Regions from separate parts of the Homo sapiens genome. Here all the other regions are linked to region 2. Evidence: fine-mapped QTL for protein levels in blood plasma. A gene starts in region 2. Each other region holds a variant in brackets. All regions are shown on one strand. Distances are from middle to middle.

Region 1 (4,542 bases), 44 kb after region 2:
CTGCGGGCCGAGGCGCCGTGGCTGCGCGCGGAGGGTCCGGGGCCGCGCGCCGCGCCCGTGACGGTGCCCACGCCGCCGCAGGTACCGGGCGCCGGTGGGCGGGGGCGCCGACCAAGTTTCTCTCGCTGCAAAGATGGCGTCAGTGCTGCCCAAACTTCGGGCCCCCGGGGGCGGGGCAGCGGGGAGGGCGGCCGCGTCGGTCCGCGCGTGTCCGTGGGTCCCGCCGGGGCTGCGCCGGGCGGCCGGGGAGCCCTTCCCGCCGCGCCGGGCTGGGGGCGGGGCCGGGGGCGGGGCCGCGCCGTCCACACCGGCCGCAGCCGGTTTTCGAGGCGGGCGCCGAGCGGATCCGCGGCGGAGGTTGAGGGACCCCCCTCCCCCGGCCACCGCCTCCGCTGAGTCTGCCCCCTCCCCATCCGCAGGGCTCTTCCGTGGGCGGCGGCTTCGCGGGCTTGGAGTTCGCGCGGCCGCAGGAGTCGGAGCCGCGGGCCTCGGACCTGGGGGCCCCCCGGACGTGGACGGGGGCGGCGGCGGGGCCCCGGACTCCGTCGGCGCACATCCCCGTCCCAGCGCAGAGGTGAGCGGGAGGCCCGGTGCCTCGGGACTCGGTGTGCGCAGGGGCGGTGGGTGGGGTGCGGAGACACCGGCCCCGACGGAGGCCAGGTCAGGGCCCCAGGTTTGTAATTACCAGCCACCCCCAAGCTCTTCAGCCCTGGAGGAGCTGAGCAGAAATGATCGATGACTGGGAGTCCCTACACCTCCCTCCACCGCAGTTCCTCGGGGCTAGAGCTCAGAACCCGGAGCGGGTGGCTGTGCGTCTCTGTGCAGAAGAGGCTGCGCGGTCGGCATGGGGCGACTGTCCAGGAATCCCTGGGGCTCCTGACCGCCACCTCCCAACCCCTGCCAGGCCGGACACCTCGGTCTGGCTGCCAGGGCAGGGGCGGGCCCTGGCCTGGCTCGCTGGGGCCTGGGGAGCTGCCCGTGCTTCCAGCCCAGTCTCCCCCTGGCTGCTGCCGGCTGCTGGCCACTCCCACCTCCCAGGCCTGGCGTGAGGCCCACAGCTGCTGTTGCACAACCCTGGTTAATGTGTGATGGGGGGAGGCCTGGGCCTGGCCCGCCCCTCTGCCAGGGCTTCAGACCCCTGCCCAGCCCCAGTATCTGAAGGAACCACAGTGGAGCCAAGCCCGCGATGTGGAGAACTCAGGCTTCAGGAGACCCTGGCCCTGCTCCTGGCGGCTCCGGGTGGCTTTCAGCTCTCTCTGCAACCTGAGCTGGGGGAGGAGCCAGGCCTCATGCCCAGGGCTGGGAGTGGGGAGCCTGGTGTGCACGCGTGCCCAGGCCTGCACGTGGACCGACCAGGGGAGGGGCCCAGAGCTCTGGCTGGGTCACCCGCACCCCGCCCCCATCTCCTCCAGAGCCACCCCAGGAAAAGCCCGGCTGGACGAGGTCATGGCTGCCGCTGCCCTTACAAGCCTGTCCACCAGCCCTCTCCTTCTGGGGGCCCCGGTTGCAGCCTTCAGCCCAGGTAAGACTCAGATGTCTGCATTTAGGGGTGTGGGTGGGGACAGGGCTCAGAACCTACAGCCACCCAGCCTCTGTGGGGCAAGCAGAGCCCTCAAACCTGGGACTCCTTTCTAAAATGGACTCCCGCACCCTCAGTGCCCCCTACTGAGGCCAAAGCGGCAGGACCCAGGCCTTCTGGCCTCCCTGACCTGCTCACCTCCACGCGGCTGGCCACACACGTCTGCCAACCCTTTCCTGTGCCGGGGGGGTTTCTCCCCAAGCCCTGGGGCCAGCTCCTCCAAGACGCTCTGCCCACCAGTCTCACCGGACTTGGTGAACAGGGGCAGCTCAGGATTAGGGACTCCCTGGACCCACCCGAAGTTCTAAGGCGGGGGGCCCGTGTCCCCACAGAGCCTGGCCTGGAGCCCTGGAAGGAGGCCCTGGTGCGGCCCCCAGGCAGCTACAGCAGCAGCAGCAACAGTGGAGACTGGGGATGGGACCTGGCCAGTGACCAGTCCTCTCCGTCCACCCCGTCACCCCCACTGCCCCCCGAGGCAGCCCACTTTCTGTTTGGGGAGCCCACCCTGAGAAAAAGGAAGGTGAGCTTGGGGGCGGCCCCCAGGGAGGGGCGGGTGTGGCGGCTGAGCCTGACCCTGGCCCCTGTTGCTGCAGAGCCCGGCCCAGGTCATGTTCCAGTGTCTGTGGAAGAGCTGCGGGAAGGTGCTGAGCACGGCGTCGGCGATGCAGAGACACATCCGCCTGGTGCACCTGGGGTGCGGCGGGGCCTGGGGTGCGGCGGGGCCTGCGGGTTGGCTGGGGTTGTGAGGCCCGGCCAGGCCACCCCTTCAGCTCCCACTGGCTGGCTGTGTCTCCCGCAGGAGGCAGGCAGAGCCTGAGCAGAGTGATGGTGAGGAGGACTTCTACTACACAGAGCTGGATGTTGGTGTGGACACGCTGACCGACGGGCTGTCCAGCCTGACTCCAGTGTCCCCCACGGCCTCCATGCCGCCTGCCTTCCCCCGCCTGGAGCTGCCAGAGCTGCTGGAGCCCCCAGCCCTGCCTAGTCCCCTGCGGCCGCCTGCCCCGCCCCTGCCCCCGCCCCCTGTCCTGAGCACCGTTGCTAACCCCCAGTCCTGTCACAGTGACCGTGTCTACCAGGTGGGTGAGGCCACGGGTGGCAGCTGGGGCGGGTCTCAGGGCTCTCTGGAGGGGAGTGAAGCCCTGGCTGTGTCTCCCTGTAGGGCTGCCTGACGCCCGCCCGCCTGGAGCCGCAGCCCACGGAGGTCGGAGCCTGCCCACCCGCCTTGTCCTCCAGGATCGGAGTCACCCTGAGGTGCGTGTGGGCTGAGGGCCTGCGGCTGGCACCAGGTGGGGAGGGTCCTGGTCTCACAGCACCCCATGTCCTGTGACCCCCCGCACAGGAAGCCCCGCGGCGACGCGAAGAAGTGCCGGAAGGTGTATGGCATGGAGCGCCGGGACCTCTGGTGCACAGCCTGCCGCTGGAAGAAAGCCTGCCAGCGGTTCCTGGACTAAGTCCGGCTCGTTCAAGAACATAAGCTACCACCTTCTCCCTCCCCACCCCCTCCAGGCCCGGGGCTGAAACAGCCCGAGGACAGCCCCAGGGGCTGGCTTTCACCAGCTGCAGGGTCTGCTTTTACTTGGGGTGGGGGGGCGGGGCTGACCCTGAACCCTCCCCCCCGCCAGGTCGGGGAGGGGTCCCACCACTCAAAGTGCCTCTAAAGAAACCAGCTTTTTGCACTAAAGCCAAACCACACCGCTGTCCCCTTAGCCCCAAGGGCCCTGGGGGCAGCCACCCTCCCGCCTGTCGGCCCGTAGATTTATCAAGGGTGTTATGGGCCCAGCTTTGGGGGGCCAGTCCCGATGCACTTTGAGGGGTGTTGGAGAGGGGACTCCCCCACTCGCACTTAACTCAACGGCTCTCGGGCCCTGGGGCTGTTTTTACCATGTTTGTTTTTGAAGCTCAGGTGTCTCACGTCTGGGCT[G/A]CACCAGGCGAAGAGAGAAATTAAAGATTTGAGGTTTTTCCAGAAGCTTTGTCTGCCTCTCGGGAGGAAGGCCGTGGGGCTGGGACCCTGTGGTGGGCAAGTGGGTGGAGTCTGGCAGCTGCCCACAGAGGGCCGAGGGTCACCCGTCGGCCGCCGCCACCCCAGGCGAGGCCGGAGGAAGGATCATCTGAGACGCAGGAGGCATCTGCTGGAGCAGCAATTTCCCAATTTATTGAAAGTGATCGCTTTGCAAGGATGTCTAAGCTAATCCCGTCACAGAAAGGAAACGCACAGGCGCCTAGGCAGAAACTTGGAGACTCACCGCAGAGGCCACGTGAACCCACGGCCACAGAGAGGCAGGACGGCAGAGCCATGATTTCCCACCGAGCGATTACGAGAACCTCTTCCCCCAATAGTAGACACATCTCCAATACAAACACAGGTTTATAATAAGTAATAGGAAGTCAATATAATATAGATTATCCCCAGAAAAAAATCAACAATCTTCAAACACTGCCCTTTTTTTGTGTGTTTTGTTTTTGTTGACAGGTTGAAAGCATGTTGAAAAAAATAAATATTTAAGAAAAGCACACACAGCACCCTCACTACAAGTAGTTCTAAAAGGGCTGCATACAAAACACAATATAAGATCTAAAAAAAACCACCACCATTAAGTATGGCTTTCTTAAGAGTCGCACATGTCACAGAATGAGCTAAAATAAGATTACTTCTTTTATAATATTGCAAAAAGTTCCAGTTTTTGCATTTTCTCAGTTTTTTAAAGAGGAAGATGTGCAAAGTTGGAAGCAGTAAGCTGCGTCTTCTGAGTCAGTTCCCTACGTAGCCCTGGCAGTGTCCTGTGTCCCAAAGCTCAGAGAGCCCCAGTGTACAACCTGGTCAGGATCCAGAGCTTGACAGAAAAATCGTGGTGTCCCTGCCCCCTCCCCGCCCCCAAATAACACCATCCCCAATGGACTGTATTTCCCACTTTGGTGTTGTAAACACCAAAATACAAACAGACACAAACAAAAATACAAAA
Region 2 (6,071 bases):
GGTCCCAGCCAGTCCTCAGGACCTCCCCACGGGCCTGCAGCATCTGAGTGGGGTGAGCCTCATGGGAGAGACATCGCTGGGCAGCAGGCCACGGGAGCTCCGGGCGGGCCCCTCTCAGCAGGCTGTGTGTGCCAGGGCTGTGGGGCAGAGGACGTGGTGCCCTTCCAGTGCCCTGCCTGTGACTTCCAGCGCTGCCAAGCCTGCTGGCAACGGCACCTTCAGGTTGGTGCCTGGCCACTACAGTTCCTGCTGGGTGTAGCCCCAGGTGATGGGCTGAGGGGGAAAGGGCAGGCCCTTGTCCTGGTGGCAACGCCTGGCAGACGTGTGCAGTGGGCCGGTTGTCTCACAGGCCTCTAGGATGTGCCCAGCCTGCCACACCGCCTCCAGGAAGCAGAGCGTCATGCAGGTCTTCTGGCCAGAGCCCCAGTGAGTGCCCACGGAGGCCCCCAGCACACCCAACGTGGCTTGATCACCTGCCTGTCCAGCTCTGGTGGGCCAAGAACCCACCCAACAGAATAGGCCAGCCCATGCCAGCCGGCTTGGCCCGCTGCAGGCCTCAGGCAGGCGGGGCCCATGGTTGGTCCCTGCGGTGGGACCGGATCTGGGCCTGCCTCTGAGAAGCCCTGAGCTACCTTGGGGTCTGGGGTGGGTTTCTGGGAAAGTGCTTCCCCAGAACTTCCCTGGCTCCTGGCCTGTGAGTGGTGCCACAGGGGCACCCCAGCTGAGCCCCTCACCGGGAAGGAGGAGACCCCCGTGGGCACGTGTCCACTTTTAATCAGGGGACAGGGCTCTCTAATAAAGCTGCTGGCAGTGCCCAGGACGGTGTCTTCGTGGCCTGGGCTTGGTGGTGGGAGTTGAGGGACAGGGAGTTGGCAGAGGCCCCTCCCAGCCTGCCATGTGACACTGTACTTCCTCCACGGTGGGCTCAGCCCTGCCCTCATCCTCACAGCCGCAGCCAAGCTGCAGTTGGTAGGGGATCCACCGACACACCAGGCTGCCTGGGCTGGTCTCTGGGTTGGGAGCTGCCCCAGGTGCTGAGGAGGGCAGCTCCCTGGCTGGTGAGGCCCCTCCCAGAACCACCCTTGGACTGAGCTCTGGGGAGGGATGGTACCAGGTGGGTGAGGGGGGCTGCCTGGGGAGGGAGGGGTTCCTATGGGGCGTGGCGAGGCTGGCCCAGCCCTCTCCCCGCCCATATATGTAGGGCAGCAGCAGGATGGGCTTCTGGACTTGGGCGGCCCCTCCGCAGGCGGACCGGGGGCAAAGGAGGTGGCATGTCGGTCAGGCACAGCAGGGTCCTGTGTCCGCGCTGAGCCGCGCTCTCCCTGCTCCAGCAAGGACCATGAGGGCGCTGGAGGGGCCAGGCCTGTCGCTGCTGTGCCTGGTGTTGGCGCTGCCTGCCCTGCTGCCGGTGCCGGCTGTACGCGGAGTGGCAGAAACACCCACCTACCCCTGGCGGGACGCAGAGACAGGGGAGCGGCTGGTGTGCGCCCAGTGCCCCCCAGGCACCTTTGTGCAGCGGCCGTGCCGCCGAGACAGCCCCACGACGTGTGGCCCGTGTCCACCGCGCCACTACACGCAGTTCTGGAACTACCTAGAGCGCTGCCGCTACTGCAACGTCCTCTGCGGGGAGCGTGAGGAGGAGGCACGGGCTTGCCACGCCACCCACAACCGTGCCTGCCGCTGCCGCACCGGCTTCTTCGCGCACGCTGGTTTCTGCTTGGAGCACGCATCGTGTCCACCTGGTGCCGGCGTGATTGCCCCGGGTGAGAGCTGGGCGAGGGGAGGGGCCCCCAGGAGTGGTGGCCGGAGGTGTGGCAGGGGTCAGGTTGCTGGTCCCAGCCTTGCACCCTGAGCTAGGACACCAGTTCCCCTGACCCTGTTCTTCCCTCCTGGCTGCAGGCACCCCCAGCCAGAACACGCAGTGCCAGCCGTGCCCCCCAGGCACCTTCTCAGCCAGCAGCTCCAGCTCAGAGCAGTGCCAGCCCCACCGCAACTGCACGGCCCTGGGCCTGGCCCTCAATGTGCCAGGCTCTTCCTCCCATGACACCCTGTGCACCAGCTGCACTGGCTTCCCCCTCAGCACCAGGGTACCAGGTGAGCCAGAGGCCTGAGGGGGCAGCACACTGCAGGCCAGGCCCACTTGTGCCCTCACTCCTGCCCCTGCACGTGCATCTAGCCTGAGGCATGCCAGCTGGCTCTGGGAAGGGGCCACAGTGGATTTGAGGGGTCAGGGGTCCCTCCACTAGATCCCCACCAAGTCTGCCCTCTCAGGGGTGGCTGAGAATTTGGATCTGAGCCAGGGCACAGCCTCCCCTGGGGAGCTCTGGGAAAGTGGGCAGCAATCTCCTAACTGCCCGAGGGGAAGGTGGCTGGCTCCTCTGACACGGGGAAACCGAGGCCTGATGGTAACTCTCCTAACTGCCTGAGAGGAAGGTGGCTGCCTCCTCTGACATGGGGAAACCGAGGCCCAATGTTAACCACTGTTGAGAAGTCACAGGGGGAAGTGACCCCCTTAACATCAAGTCAGGTCCGGTCCATCTGCAGGTCCCAACTCGCCCCTTCCGATGGCCCAGGAGCCCCAAGCCCTTGCCTGGGCCCCCTTGCCTCTTGCAGCCAAGGTCCGAGTGGCCGCTCCTGCCCCCTAGGCCTTTGCTCCAGCTCTCTGACCGAAGGCTCCTGCCCCTTCTCCAGTCCCCATCGTTGCACTGCCCTCTCCAGCACGGCTCACTGCACAGGGATTTCTCTCTCCTGCAAACCCCCCGAGTGGGGCCCAGAAAGCAGGGTACCTGGCAGCCCCCGCCAGTGTGTGTGGGTGAAATGATCGGACCGCTGCCTCCCCACCCCACTGCAGGAGCTGAGGAGTGTGAGCGTGCCGTCATCGACTTTGTGGCTTTCCAGGACATCTCCATCAAGAGGCTGCAGCGGCTGCTGCAGGCCCTCGAGGCCCCGGAGGGCTGGGGTCCGACACCAAGGGCGGGCCGCGCGGCCTTGCAGCTGAAGCTGCGTCGGCGGCTCACGGAGCTCCTGGGGGCGCAGGACGGGGCGCTGCTGGTGCGGCTGCTGCAGGCGCTGCGCGTGGCCAGGATGCCCGGGCTGGAGCGGAGCGTCCGTGAGCGCTTCCTCCCTGTGCACTGATCCTGGCCCCCTCTTATTTATTCTACATCCTTGGCACCCCACTTGCACTGAAAGAGGCTTTTTTTTAAATAGAAGAAATGAGGTTTCTTAAAGCTTATTTTTATAAAGCTTTTTCATAAAACTGGTTGTAGTTGCACAGCTACTGGGAGGGCAGCCGGGGACACCTGAGCCGCCCGCTGTGCCCAGATCCCTCAGGCTGCCTGCCATCAGAACTGCTGCCCGGGGCTTCCCCTACCTCAGACAGACCCTCCCTGGGAGGATCAGTGGGGAGTGCCACCTCTGCCCCCAGTGGCTGTGGCACGTGGCAGGGGCCCCTGAAGCTCAGCGAGGGTCAGGGCCTGGGAGGGTATCATTGCTGGAAGAACAGGATGGGGCTCAGGCCAGCCCTAGTCGCCGGGGCCCACACTAACCCCCCACTTATGAATTCCTCCCACTCCCAACTCACAGGGGATTTCCCGAGAGGGGACCTGCCAAAGACCTCCTCCAGGCCTCCCATGCTTTCCGGGAAGTGAAGCTTCTCCCTCTCTGGGGCAGGCTCTGAAGCCTCCCGATGCACCCAGAGCAACCGGGGGGCTGCACCAGCCACTCGCCTCCCCAGCACGGCCAGGTTCCCGGGGCTGGAGGTCCCCCCCAGGTCCTGGGAACCAACCTGCAGAACACACACAGGGTCCCCTGGAGAGGACGCGGGGACTTCCAGGGCCCGACTCCTGTGAGTCACAGCCCCGCAGCTGCTGCGCCACCCCCACCCTGACTCATGCCCCTTCCCAGCAGCTCCTCCCAGGACCCCATGTCCTTCCCACATCCGCAGGAAGGGAGTGCCTGGACTCTCCAGGCCCACCTGGGGAGCCCCTCACCTGCCCACCAGCCCCTGAGCAGCCCAGTAACACCATCACCGTGTCCAACAGCCAGGAGCCTCCACCCTCCAGGAGGGAAGGGATGGACAGAGCCACACTCGCCGTCTTTATTTTGCACTCACCCTGGGTGACACTGGGCAGGCCGCTCCTGCCCACAGCCAGACTGAGGAAGAACACAGCACTCGGCAGGCCCAGTGGGGTCCGTGCAGGGAGGACCCCAGGACCAGCCTTACTCCCGAGCAGGGGACACAGGGCCCCACAGAGAACCCCTCCGGGAGGTTCTCTCCTGGCTGGGGGAGGGCTCTGGACCCCCACAAACACTCCCCAACTTGCGGGGCTGGGGCATAAAAACAGCCACTCCCAGCAGGCCCCCTCAGCTTTTTGCATCAGTCAGCTCCCTCCCGGGGGATTAGGGTGAGGTGAAGCCAGGCCCAGGCGTGGGGTATAGGTCTTCCCCCGCAGGCCTCAGCCCTGTCCCGAGGCTGCATCACAATCCAGGGCCCCCGCTGGCCTTTGGGAACATGGCCTGGGTCTTCCTCAAGGCAAGATCAGCCCCAGACCACTTCCGGGGTCACGGGGTCACGGGGTCACAGGGCAGAAGCCAGATGGCAGCCATGGCTGACGGGCCTCCTCCTCGATGGGGCGGAGACAGCCACGGGGTCTCCCGAGGGTCCCACAGGGCTGTCCTCATGCAGCCCAAGCCAGCCTGAGCACTGGAGCCCCAATTCCCAACCAGGTCTCCCTCAGACCCCCCAGAAAGGGCCTCGAAAGGCCGCCGCTGCGCCCTGTGGAAAGGCTGCCGCTGCAGGGCCTGGGCCAGCCGGGCTGCCAGACTCCCCTCCAAAGCCTCCGGATGCCTACGCTTTTCCAGACATAGAGGAAAGTTTGTCTTCGAGAAAACAAAGTAAATAGAAGAACCCCAAAGCAAAGCAAACCCACCCCCCAGATCAGCAGCATGGGAGCCAACAGGAGGCCACTCCTCCAGCACCAGGGGACCAGCCGTCCCGACGGCAGCGCGGCTGCGCCTACGTGATGTCCCTCTGCCGCGGCGGCCGGTGCACATTCCGCACGACACACTTCACCATCCACTCGATGCCCTCGCGCACCCCTTTGCTGTGAAGACAGCGGGTGTGAGGCGGGGGGTCTCGGTCCCCAAAGCCCCCGCAGGTGCAGCCCCCACTCACCCTGTGAGGGCCGAGCAGGCCTGGGTCAGGCAATCTCGCCTGCCGATCTTGCTGGTGCAGTCGCTGAAGGCCGTCTTGATGTCAGGGATTGAGAGGCACGTCTGGGGGAGGTAAGGCCGTGAGGAGCAGCCCCCACGTCTGGCCCTGTCCTGCCTGTGGGCCCGGGACTCTCAGAAGGGCGTATGCCCTTCACCCCAGGGAAACAGCCAGAGCTCCACCAGGGTCCCAGTGTCTCCCACAGAGACCACAGCAGTGAGGACCCTGTGCTCAGCCCGAGGCTGAACATGGCTGGTAGTGCCTGAGACAAACTAGACGTCCACACGGCTCCAAGGAGTCCACCCCCCATCCCCTCCCTGGGGGACACCCTGAGCCCCGAGGTGGGGCGCTGAGGACTGAGGCCTCCTGGGCAGTGGCGGAGGCAGGTCCCAGGGGCCCACACAGCCGGGGATGATGGAGAGGTGGGAGCCCTGCATCAGTGATGGAGGCAGTCTGCAGTCATGGTGGCTTCTGCTCACAACCACCTGCCCAGTCTTCAAAAAGCAGCCCTCCCCTCCCCTTTTCCTCCGAGGGGAGACCCCTGCCCCGTACCAGATGTCCCTCTTGTCGGCTGAGATTGTAGGGGAGGCCAGCCTTACAGGCTGGGGGCAACAGAGCCACCCCAGAGAAGGCAGGAAGTGAAGATTCACCTGGCCCTCTGGACGCCGGGCTGCTTCTGTGCAAAGCCACTCCAAGAGAACAGCTAGAACTCAGCGTGGCCAGTGCTCCCGGGGGCAGTGGCACCTCAGAGGGGTCTTGAGGGGCTGCCCTGGGGGTGGGGCTGGCACAGATGCCACCTCCAAGGGTAGCAGGAACAGGTAAGGGTCAGAGCTGACTCCCACCAGGGCCCCAGCATCACTTC
Region 3 (7,629 bases), 22 kb before region 2:
CTGCCCGTCAGGCGCAGGGCCCCCACAGGCCGCTCACCAGACCCTTTCCCTCCAGCCAGCTCGGGGTCAGCCTGGGCCAGGGCTGTCTCCTCTGCCCTCGGCAGCAGCAGGCTTGTGGTCTTGCCTGCAGTGTCTCTGCCCTTCCGGCCACATGGCTTGAGACTGAGGCAGGAGAATCGCTTGAACCTTGGAGGCAGAGGCTGCAGTGAGCCAGGATCACACCACTGCATTCCAGCCTGGGTGACAAAGCGGGATTCTGTGTCAAAAAAAAAAATGTTGACTGGGCGCGCTAGCTCATGCCTATAATCCCAGCACTTTGGGAGGCTGAGGTGGGCGGATCACGAGGTCAAGAGATCAAGACCATCCTGGCCAACATAGTGAAACACCGTCTCTACTAAAAATACAAAAAAATTAGCTGGGCGTGGTGGCGTGTGCCTATAGTCCCAGCTACTCAGGAGGCTGAGGCAGGAGAATCACTCGAACCCAGGAGGTAGAGGTTGCAATGAGCCAAGATCACACCACTGTACTCCAGCCTGGTGACAGAGCAAGACTCCGTCTCAAAAAAAATAAAATCAAAAAGAATAATTGGCAATTCCAGTGAAATAATTGTTTGTTTGTTTGTTGAGACAGGGTCTCCTTCTGTCGTCCAGGCTGGAGTTCAGTGGTATGATCTTGGCCCACTGCAACCTCCACCTCCTGGGCTCAAGCCATCCTCCCACCTCAGCCTCCCGAGTAGCCGGGACTACAGGTGCACACCACCACGCCCGGCTAATTTTTGTATTTTTTGTAGAGGCGGGGTTTCCCAGCGTTGCCCAGGCTGGTCTTGAACCCCTGAGCTCAAGTGATCTGCCCACCTTGGCCTCCCAAAGTGCTGGGATTACAGGTGTGAGCCACCGCGCCCGGCCTGAAACAATCGTTTCTAAATATTGGTGTGGGCCACACAGTCATGTTTGGACCTACTTGTGGCCTTTTACAGACCCCAGGCCAAGGCTTTGGGAACTTGGCTGTCAGCCTCCTGTGCCTTCTGCACCCCCACCCCATTTCTGCTTTCTGGAACCCCCGATCCTGTCCTGTTCTGTGGTGATTCGGGTGTGCTTGGGCTCTAGGAGAAGATGTGTGAAGAATCGGCATCCTTTGACCTGACTCCCCATGACCTGGCTTCAGGACTGGACGTCATAGACCAGGTGCTGGAGGAGCAGACCAAGGCAGCGCAGCAGGGTGAGCCCCACCCGGAGTTCAGCGCGGACTCCCCCAGCCCAGGTGCGTTCATAGCCAGACTGCTTGGTCCTGAGGCCTGCGCTGCTGCAGGGTGAGCCCCACCCGGAGTTCAGCACGGACTCCCCCAGCCCAGGTGCGTTCATAGCCAGGCTGCTTGGTCCTGAGGCCCGTGCTACTGCAGTGGGCAGCCTGCCCTGTGGCTGTGTGTGGTCGGCCTGGGCACCATCTATTCAGGCTGGCACTGCAGGGCATCCGCTTCTCTCAGAGGCTTCTTGGGTGTGAATTCTTCAGGGTCCTGTAGCCTGTGGAAGGGCTGGTATTGTTCAGTAGTTCTGGTATTTTCCAAAGACCTATGTCTTCTCCCAGCCAGTATCAACTTGGCCTCTACTGTGTAAAACTGGAAAACTCTACTTTGTGAAGCTGAGTTGGGAGCATCGCTTGAGGCCAGGAGTTTGAGACCAGCCTGGGCAACATGGCGGAACCTCGCCCCTGCCAAAAAATTAGCCAGGTGTGGTGGTGTGCTCCTGTGGTCCAAGCTTTTCCGGAGGCCGAAGTGGGAGGCGTGCTTGAGCCTGGGAGGCAGAGCTTCCGGTGCCCCAGATGACTCCACTGCACTCCAGCCTGGGCGGCAGAGTGAGGCCATCTCAAAAAAAAAAAAAAGGAAAACTAAATATATTCACTGTAAGGGCATTTTGCATCTTTAAATGACCCACAAATCTGGCATGCATCAGCTGCTCTGCCTGTAGGTTCCTTCCCAGTGTTTGTCCAGAGGTGTATTTCCACACAGCGCTAGTCACGGCATACGTGGAAAACGTGGAAACCCTTCATGGATGTTGTCAGTTGGTCTATATTTTCTTTCTTTTTTTTTTTTTTGAGATGGAGTTTCACTTTTGTTGCCCAGGCTGGAGTGCAATGGCGCGATCTTGGCTCACTGCAACCTCCGCCTCCTGGGTTCAAGCAATTCTCCTGCCTCAGCCTCCCAAGTAGCTGGGATCACAGGCGTGCACCACCACGCCCAGCTAATTTTGTATTTTTAGTAGAGATGGTTTCTCCGTGTTGGCCAGGCTGGTCTCGAACTCCTGACCTCACGTGATCCACCCGCTTCGGCCTCCCAAAGTGCTGGGATTACAGGCGTGAGCCGCCACGCCCGGCCTTTGTCCATATTTTCTACATGGCTTCTGTAAACAGCTGACTAGGAGTCTGTGTGAATATCTTCATAGGTTCTGCTGTGACACTACTTGCTCGTGAGCATCTCCAGGTGTAAACAGCATCAGCTTCCCCCATTTTCCTTTAAAATCGCACATGTGGACGGACACCACGGGGACCCTGGACCCTGGGGAGCCCCGTCCTCACCCTTCTCACCAGGATGGCTGCTTGGTAGAGAGTGAGTTTGCAAAGTTGGCATTTGTTTAGTACAGAAGTTATCAGGTGTTCTGGCTTTAGAATCCCTTTATATATATATATATATAC[A/G]TATATTTAAGTGACAGGGTCTCACTCTGTTGCCCAGGCTGGAATGTGGTGGTACAATCAAAGTTCCCTGTAGCCTCGGCCTCCTGGGCTCATGGGATCTTCCCGTCTCAGCGTCTTAAAGCGCCGGGACCACAGGTGTGCACCACTGCCACCGGCTCTCAAGATTGCCACGCAGGGAGTTGCAGTGGGGGAAGGGGTTCCTGGGACTTTGAACGCTCCACCTCCCTCCTCTCCACAGTCCCCCAACCCCACCTCTCTAACGGGGTGGACGGCCGCCTCTTTCCATCCTTCGCTTGGCGCAGGGTGGGGAGAGTGACAGGTCTCCTTCCCTCATCTCGGCAGCTGCCATTTCATCGCTTACATAACGTGGGAGAAACATCCACCCACCCCCAGGCCTGTGTGAACATCACCACGGGGCCTTCTCCACTCTTCAGTTTTGTTAGTTACTTGATGTGCAGGGCTTTTTGTTGTAACTAGTGGGGGACGTGTGGTGGGGTGGGCTTCTGCCATCTCATTCAGGACCAGAACTTCAGTTTTCATCCCTATCTGTTCCCCCACCCCTTTGGAGATGGGGTCTCACTCTGTCACCCAGGCTGGAGAGCGGTGGTGCCATCACGGCTCACTGCAGCCTCCACCTCCTGCAGCCTCCACCTCTTGGGCTCAAGTGATCCTCCTGCCTCGGCCTCCCAAGCTCCTGGGACTACAGGCGTGTGCCACTGTGCTTGGCAGGGTCCATTCTTTTCCTCACACTTTATTTATTGAAGAGCCCAGGCCGTTTACCCTGCAGAGTCGGAATCTGTACAGGAGGGGCAGCCACACGAGTTCCCCGGTTTACTCTGAACTTAGGTGGCTTGAGGGCCCCAGTTAGACTGCGGCCACCGTTTGCCGGGCTCCAGATGGGACGTCCTTTCTATCAGAAGGCTCACAGTATCTCCTTTCCCGTTTCTTCCCATGTGAACATTGTTGCTGCTGAACACCTGAATATGTTAATCACTGGGGGCTTGCAAGATGGCAGTGTGCTAATTCCATCATCTAGTCAGTTAGCAGGAATAACTTAGGACCACGCCCTGCACCATATCAGCTATGTGGTGATCCCATTCACACAGGAAAGGTGGGACAAATGCTGGGGGTGGGCCGGGTGTGCTGTCTCACACCTGTCATCCCAGCACTTTGGGAGGCCCAGGCAGGCGGATCACGAGGTCAGAGATTGAGACCATCCTGGCCAACACGGTGAAACCCCGTCTCTACTAAAAATACAAAAAAATTAGCCAGGTGTGGTGGTGCATGCTTGTAATCCCAGCTACTTGGGAGGCTGAGGCAGGAGAATCACTTGAACCCAGGAGGCGGAGGTTGCAGTGAGCCGAGATCGCACCATTGCACTCCAGCCTGGCGACAGAGCGAGACTCCGTCTCAAAAATCAATCAGTCAATCAAGTGTCATCACTGAATGTTTGTGTGTGAACGTGGGGATTGGTCCTGCCCCATGCTCCCTCCTGAATCTCACTCCTGACCTCAGTTGCTGCACCTTGAGGTGTTTTCATGTGGGCTCTTGTGTCCTGACCCCGGCGGTTGTGGCCTCTTTGCTGTCTGGGAGTCAGGATTTTTCACACTCATGTCCTGCTCCAGACCTGGAATCAGCCAAGTCTCCAAGAAGCCCTGCTTTCTTTTCCTGCAAGACGGTATTTCAAGACCCGCCATGCGGCAGCGGGTTGGTCATGGTTACTGGGTTGGTCGTTGTTACTGGGTGTTTTCGTGGAGATACAGCCATACGCACAGGTGTGTTCACAAATGTTAATTCTAAAGGTCAAACACCCGGCCAGGCATAAGGGCTCAGCGGTAATCCCAGCACTTTGGGAGACCAAGACTGGTGGATCACCTGAGGTCAGGAGTTTAAGACCAGCCTGAGCAACAGGGTGAAACCCCATCTCTACTAAAAATGCGAAAATTAGCCGGGCATGGTGGCGCACACCTATAGTCCCAGCTAGTCGGGAGACAGACACGAGAATTGCTTGAACCTGGGACATGGAGGTTGCAGTGAGCAGAGATGGCGCTGCTGCACCCCTGCCTGGGTGACAGAGTGACACCCTGTCTCAAAAATGAATAGATAAATAAAGATAAAACACCTGCTCCTCTTGGTGTCTCCAGTTTGGATTTGGCCTGTGTAGCCTCTTCCTTCGCCTGTTGGTGGATTTGGCCTGCACGGATTCTGTGTGGCCTCTTCCTTCCCCTGTTGGTGGATTTGGCCTGCACGGATTCTGTGTGGCCTCTTCCTTCCCCTGTTGGTGGATTTGGCCTGCACGGATTCTGTGTGGCCTCTTCCTTCCCCTGTTGGTGGATTTGGCCTGCACGGATTCTGTGTGGCCTCTTCCTTCCCCTGTTGGTGGATTTGGCCTGCACGGATTCTGTGTGGCCTCTTCCTTCCCCTGTTGGTGGATTTGGCCTGCACGGATTCTGTGTGGCCTCTTCCTTCCCATGTTGGTGGATTTGGCCTGCATGGATTCTGTGTGGCCTCTTCCTTTCCATGTTGGTGTCCTTTTTTCCATGCCAGGAATCCTGGTTCTCAAGGGCGGGGTTGTTGGCACGAGCGTGATGCAGACTGCCTTTGCTGCCTTTCTCTTGCCCAGGGCTGAACATGGAGCTGGAAGACATTGCAAAGCTGAAGAGTAAGTGTTGCCCTCCCCGCCTCCTTGCAGCTGGGTGGGGCCTCCTCCTTGCGAGGAGGTGGGTGACACCTCCTCGACCCACAGTGATCCTGCTGCGCCTGGAGGGGGCCATCGATGCTGTTGAGCTGCCTGGAGACGACAGCGGTGTCACCAAGCCAGGGAGGTGAGAGGCGGGGAGCCAGCCCCTTCACTGCAGGCCCAGCCTAGAGCTAGAAACGGGCCATGGTGCAGTCCTGGGCTGTCACATCACGAGTGAGGCCTGTTTTCAGGCCTGTTTTCCCTTTTTGAGACCTGGGAGGAGCACCTGCTTTGCATGATCTGGTTGCTGAGATGTTGAGAGGAGCAGCACACACTCCCACGGGACAGCACACAGCCCCCCACGGAACGGCACACACACCCATGGAACAGCACACACACTCCCACGAACAGCACACACACTCCCACGAACAGCACACACACTCCCACGGAACAGCACACACACCCACGGAACGGCACACACACCCACGGAACAGCACACACACTCCCACGGAACAGCACACACACCCACGGAACGGCACACACTCCCACGGAACGGCACACTCTCCCACGGAACAGCACACTCTCCCACGGAACAGCACACACACTCCCACGGAACAGCACACACACCCACGGAACGGCACACACTCCCACGGAACAGCAGACTCTCCCACGGAACAGCACACACACTCCCACAGACAGCACACACACACCCACGGAACAGCACACTCTCCCACGCGGGGCCGCTGGGTTTCCTGCAGTTTCTCCTCCTCCAGGCCTTTCCCTGGACCCTGGTCCAGTCCGTCATTTGAGCACAGGTGCCTGTTAGAACGAGACCTTCTTGTTAGGACGATGAGTGTCCCAGCCACCACCTCTTTTGGACTCCGGGAGGCCTGGAACGTTCTGAACGCTCCGTGGGGCTCCAGTCTTCTCCGCAGCCAGGGCAGCAGGGTTTGCTGTCTGTCCTGCAGGCAGATGAGGAGTCAGGGCTGGGGCCTGTGTGGGGGCTCTCCTGAGCGCACAGCCGCCGAGGTGGAGCGTGTTCTGCCTGAGCGCCGACCTGGTCGGGGGAATCCCAGTTGCTTCCAGGTGGAGCCACTGTCCTCAGCGTAATGCTCAAGGCTCTGGCCTGGCTCCTCGGCCACCCTGCACCCTCAGGGTCCCCTCCTGTAGCTTCTGCTGCCCCATCACTGTCACTCTCCAAAGCTTTGGGGACTCTGCCCAGAGCCACCGCCTCCCAGAAGCCCCTGACAACCTCTTGACGACCCCCTAGTGACCCCATCCCTCCCCTCTGACGGCGGCCCCTGCTCTGAGGCGGCTTCTTTTCCTCGGTGCTGTTCTCGTGCTGGCCAGGCCTCCTCTCCCCACCTGGAGGCTCCTGAGGGCGGAGGCCTCTCACCTCCAATGCTGGCGTCCCCTGGAGGGCTGAATTTGTTTCCGAGGGAAGGAAACTTCCACAGTTGTTGCCTTCAGTTCCAAAGCTGCAGCCTGATTTCCCCCTCCAGGCTCGAGCCTGTTTTCTTCTCGGCAGCTACATCTTTGACCAGTGTCGTCCCCCCTCAGGCCCGAGCCTGCCTTCTTCTCCTCAGTTCCCAAAGCTGCAGTCTGGTCCCCCCGCCAGGCTCGAGCCTGCCTTCTTCTCCTCGGCAGCTACATCTTTGAGCTGTTTGCTGAAGCCCAGATCACGTTTCAGACCAAGGGCTGCATCCTGGACTCGCTGGACCAGATCATCCAGCACCTGGCAGGACGTGAGTGCTGGCACGGGGTCTTTGGTGCGGGCAAATGTGGCGTAGGGGGTGCAGCAGGCCTCCATCTTGGCAGTCAGGGCTCCCCTGGCCGTCACCTGGCCGTCAGCAGGAACAGGCCCACAGAACCTCATCTTCTGATCGGGGCGTGGAGGCGTTAGTGCCACTTGCCAGCTGCCGTAGAGCCTGTCCCAGTTCTGCAGCTGGCGGCTTCGTCCTACAGCCTCATCCCATTATTCTGCTTTTGAGAAAGAGCAGCCCAAGGCCCTAGCTGGCTTGTGGGGCCTCTGGCTTCTCCACACCACCCCGAGTTCTGCTTCTCAGAGTTGTGGGGTCCAGAGGCTTTGCCCAGAGGCGGTGTCCCCATGGGCTGCTCTGGTTTGAGACGCCGGGCCCAGCGGGGTCTCTCCTCTGCTGCGCTCCCGGGTGCTGGGGAGGGTGGCTTTTGCTGCTTCAACCCTTAGGCGACCATAGAGCCTCTTTTCAAGTCCCACTGACCCCCTTGGAGACTCTGTCCCT

Alleles and levels. Alleles are on the strand shown, and positions count from the first base shown. The strength of an association depends on the size of the effect and on how common the allele is.
For the plasma level of the protein whose gene starts at base 1,224 in region 2, allele A in region 1 goes with a higher level than allele G (moderate association).
For the plasma level of the protein whose gene starts at base 1,224 in region 2, allele G in region 3 goes with a higher level than allele A (moderate association).

What was found. PIP is the chance, under the fine-mapping model, that this variant and not a neighbour inherited with it causes the effect. Protein levels are from antibody-based Olink assays in UK Biobank. Linkage for the fine-mapping came from a reference panel and not from the study's own genotypes, which makes the PIPs less certain.
Region 1: its variant is fine-mapped to the plasma level of the TNFRSF6B protein (UK Biobank, PIP above 0.99).
Region 3: its variant is fine-mapped to the plasma level of the TNFRSF6B protein (UK Biobank, PIP above 0.99).

What each region holds. Positions count from the first base shown.
Region 1 is chr20:63,739,958-63,744,499 of GRCh38, forward strand. SLC2A4RG (SLC2A4 regulator) reads left to right here. Exons shown (of 8, transcript NM_020062.4): 1 at 1-81; 2 at 420-574; 3 at 1,413-1,522; 4 at 1,912-2,099; 5 at 2,173-2,273; 6 at 2,379-2,658; 7 at 2,742-2,833; 8 at 2,922-4,093. The coding sequence ends at 3,033. It overlaps ZBTB46 (zinc finger and BTB domain containing 46), which reads right to left. Exons shown (of 5, transcript NM_001369741.1): 5 at 3,713-4,542. ZBTB46-AS2 (ZBTB46 antisense RNA 2) reads left to right here and starts at 3,868. Exons shown (of 3, transcript NR_186425.1): 1 at 3,868-4,542. RefSeq lists silencers at 77-226, 237-936. The variant G/A (reference allele first, on the strand shown) is at 3,504.
Region 2 is chr20:63,695,429-63,701,499 of GRCh38, forward strand. TNFRSF6B (TNF receptor superfamily member 6b) reads left to right here and starts at 1,224. Exons shown (of 3, transcript NM_003823.4): 1 at 1,224-1,763; 2 at 1,900-2,094; 3 at 2,852-3,256. The coding sequence starts at 1,340. The coding sequence ends at 3,135. It overlaps RTEL1 (regulator of telomere elongation helicase 1), which reads left to right. Exons shown (of 35, transcript NM_001283009.2): 34 at 1-222; 35 at 350-817. The coding sequence ends at 430. It overlaps ARFRP1 (ARF related protein 1), which reads right to left. Exons shown (of 8, transcript NM_001267547.3): 7 at 5,174-5,274; 8 at 3,219-5,102. The coding sequence ends at 5,015. RTEL1-TNFRSF6B (RTEL1-TNFRSF6B readthrough (NMD candidate)) reads left to right here. Exons shown (of 38, transcript NR_037882.1): 34 at 1-222; 35 at 350-426; 36 at 1,332-1,763; 37 at 1,900-2,094; 38 at 2,852-3,270. RefSeq lists enhancers at 519-568, 2,329-2,378, 3,474-3,523, 3,764-3,943, 4,014-4,063 and 2 more.
Region 3 is chr20:63,672,834-63,680,462 of GRCh38, forward strand. It overlaps RTEL1 (regulator of telomere elongation helicase 1), which reads left to right. Exons shown (of 35, transcript NM_001283009.2): 10 at 1,107-1,260; 11 at 5,312-5,350; 12 at 5,435-5,513; 13 at 7,016-7,113. It overlaps RTEL1-TNFRSF6B (RTEL1-TNFRSF6B readthrough (NMD candidate)), which reads left to right. Exons shown (of 38, transcript NR_037882.1): 10 at 1,107-1,260; 11 at 5,312-5,350; 12 at 5,435-5,513; 13 at 7,016-7,113. It overlaps LOC124904954 (a long non-coding RNA gene), which reads right to left and starts at 5,542. Exons shown (of 2, transcript XR_007067717.1): 1 at 4,811-5,542. RefSeq lists an enhancer at 3,680-3,824 and a cis regulatory region at 3,752. The variant A/G (reference allele first, on the strand shown) is at 2,689.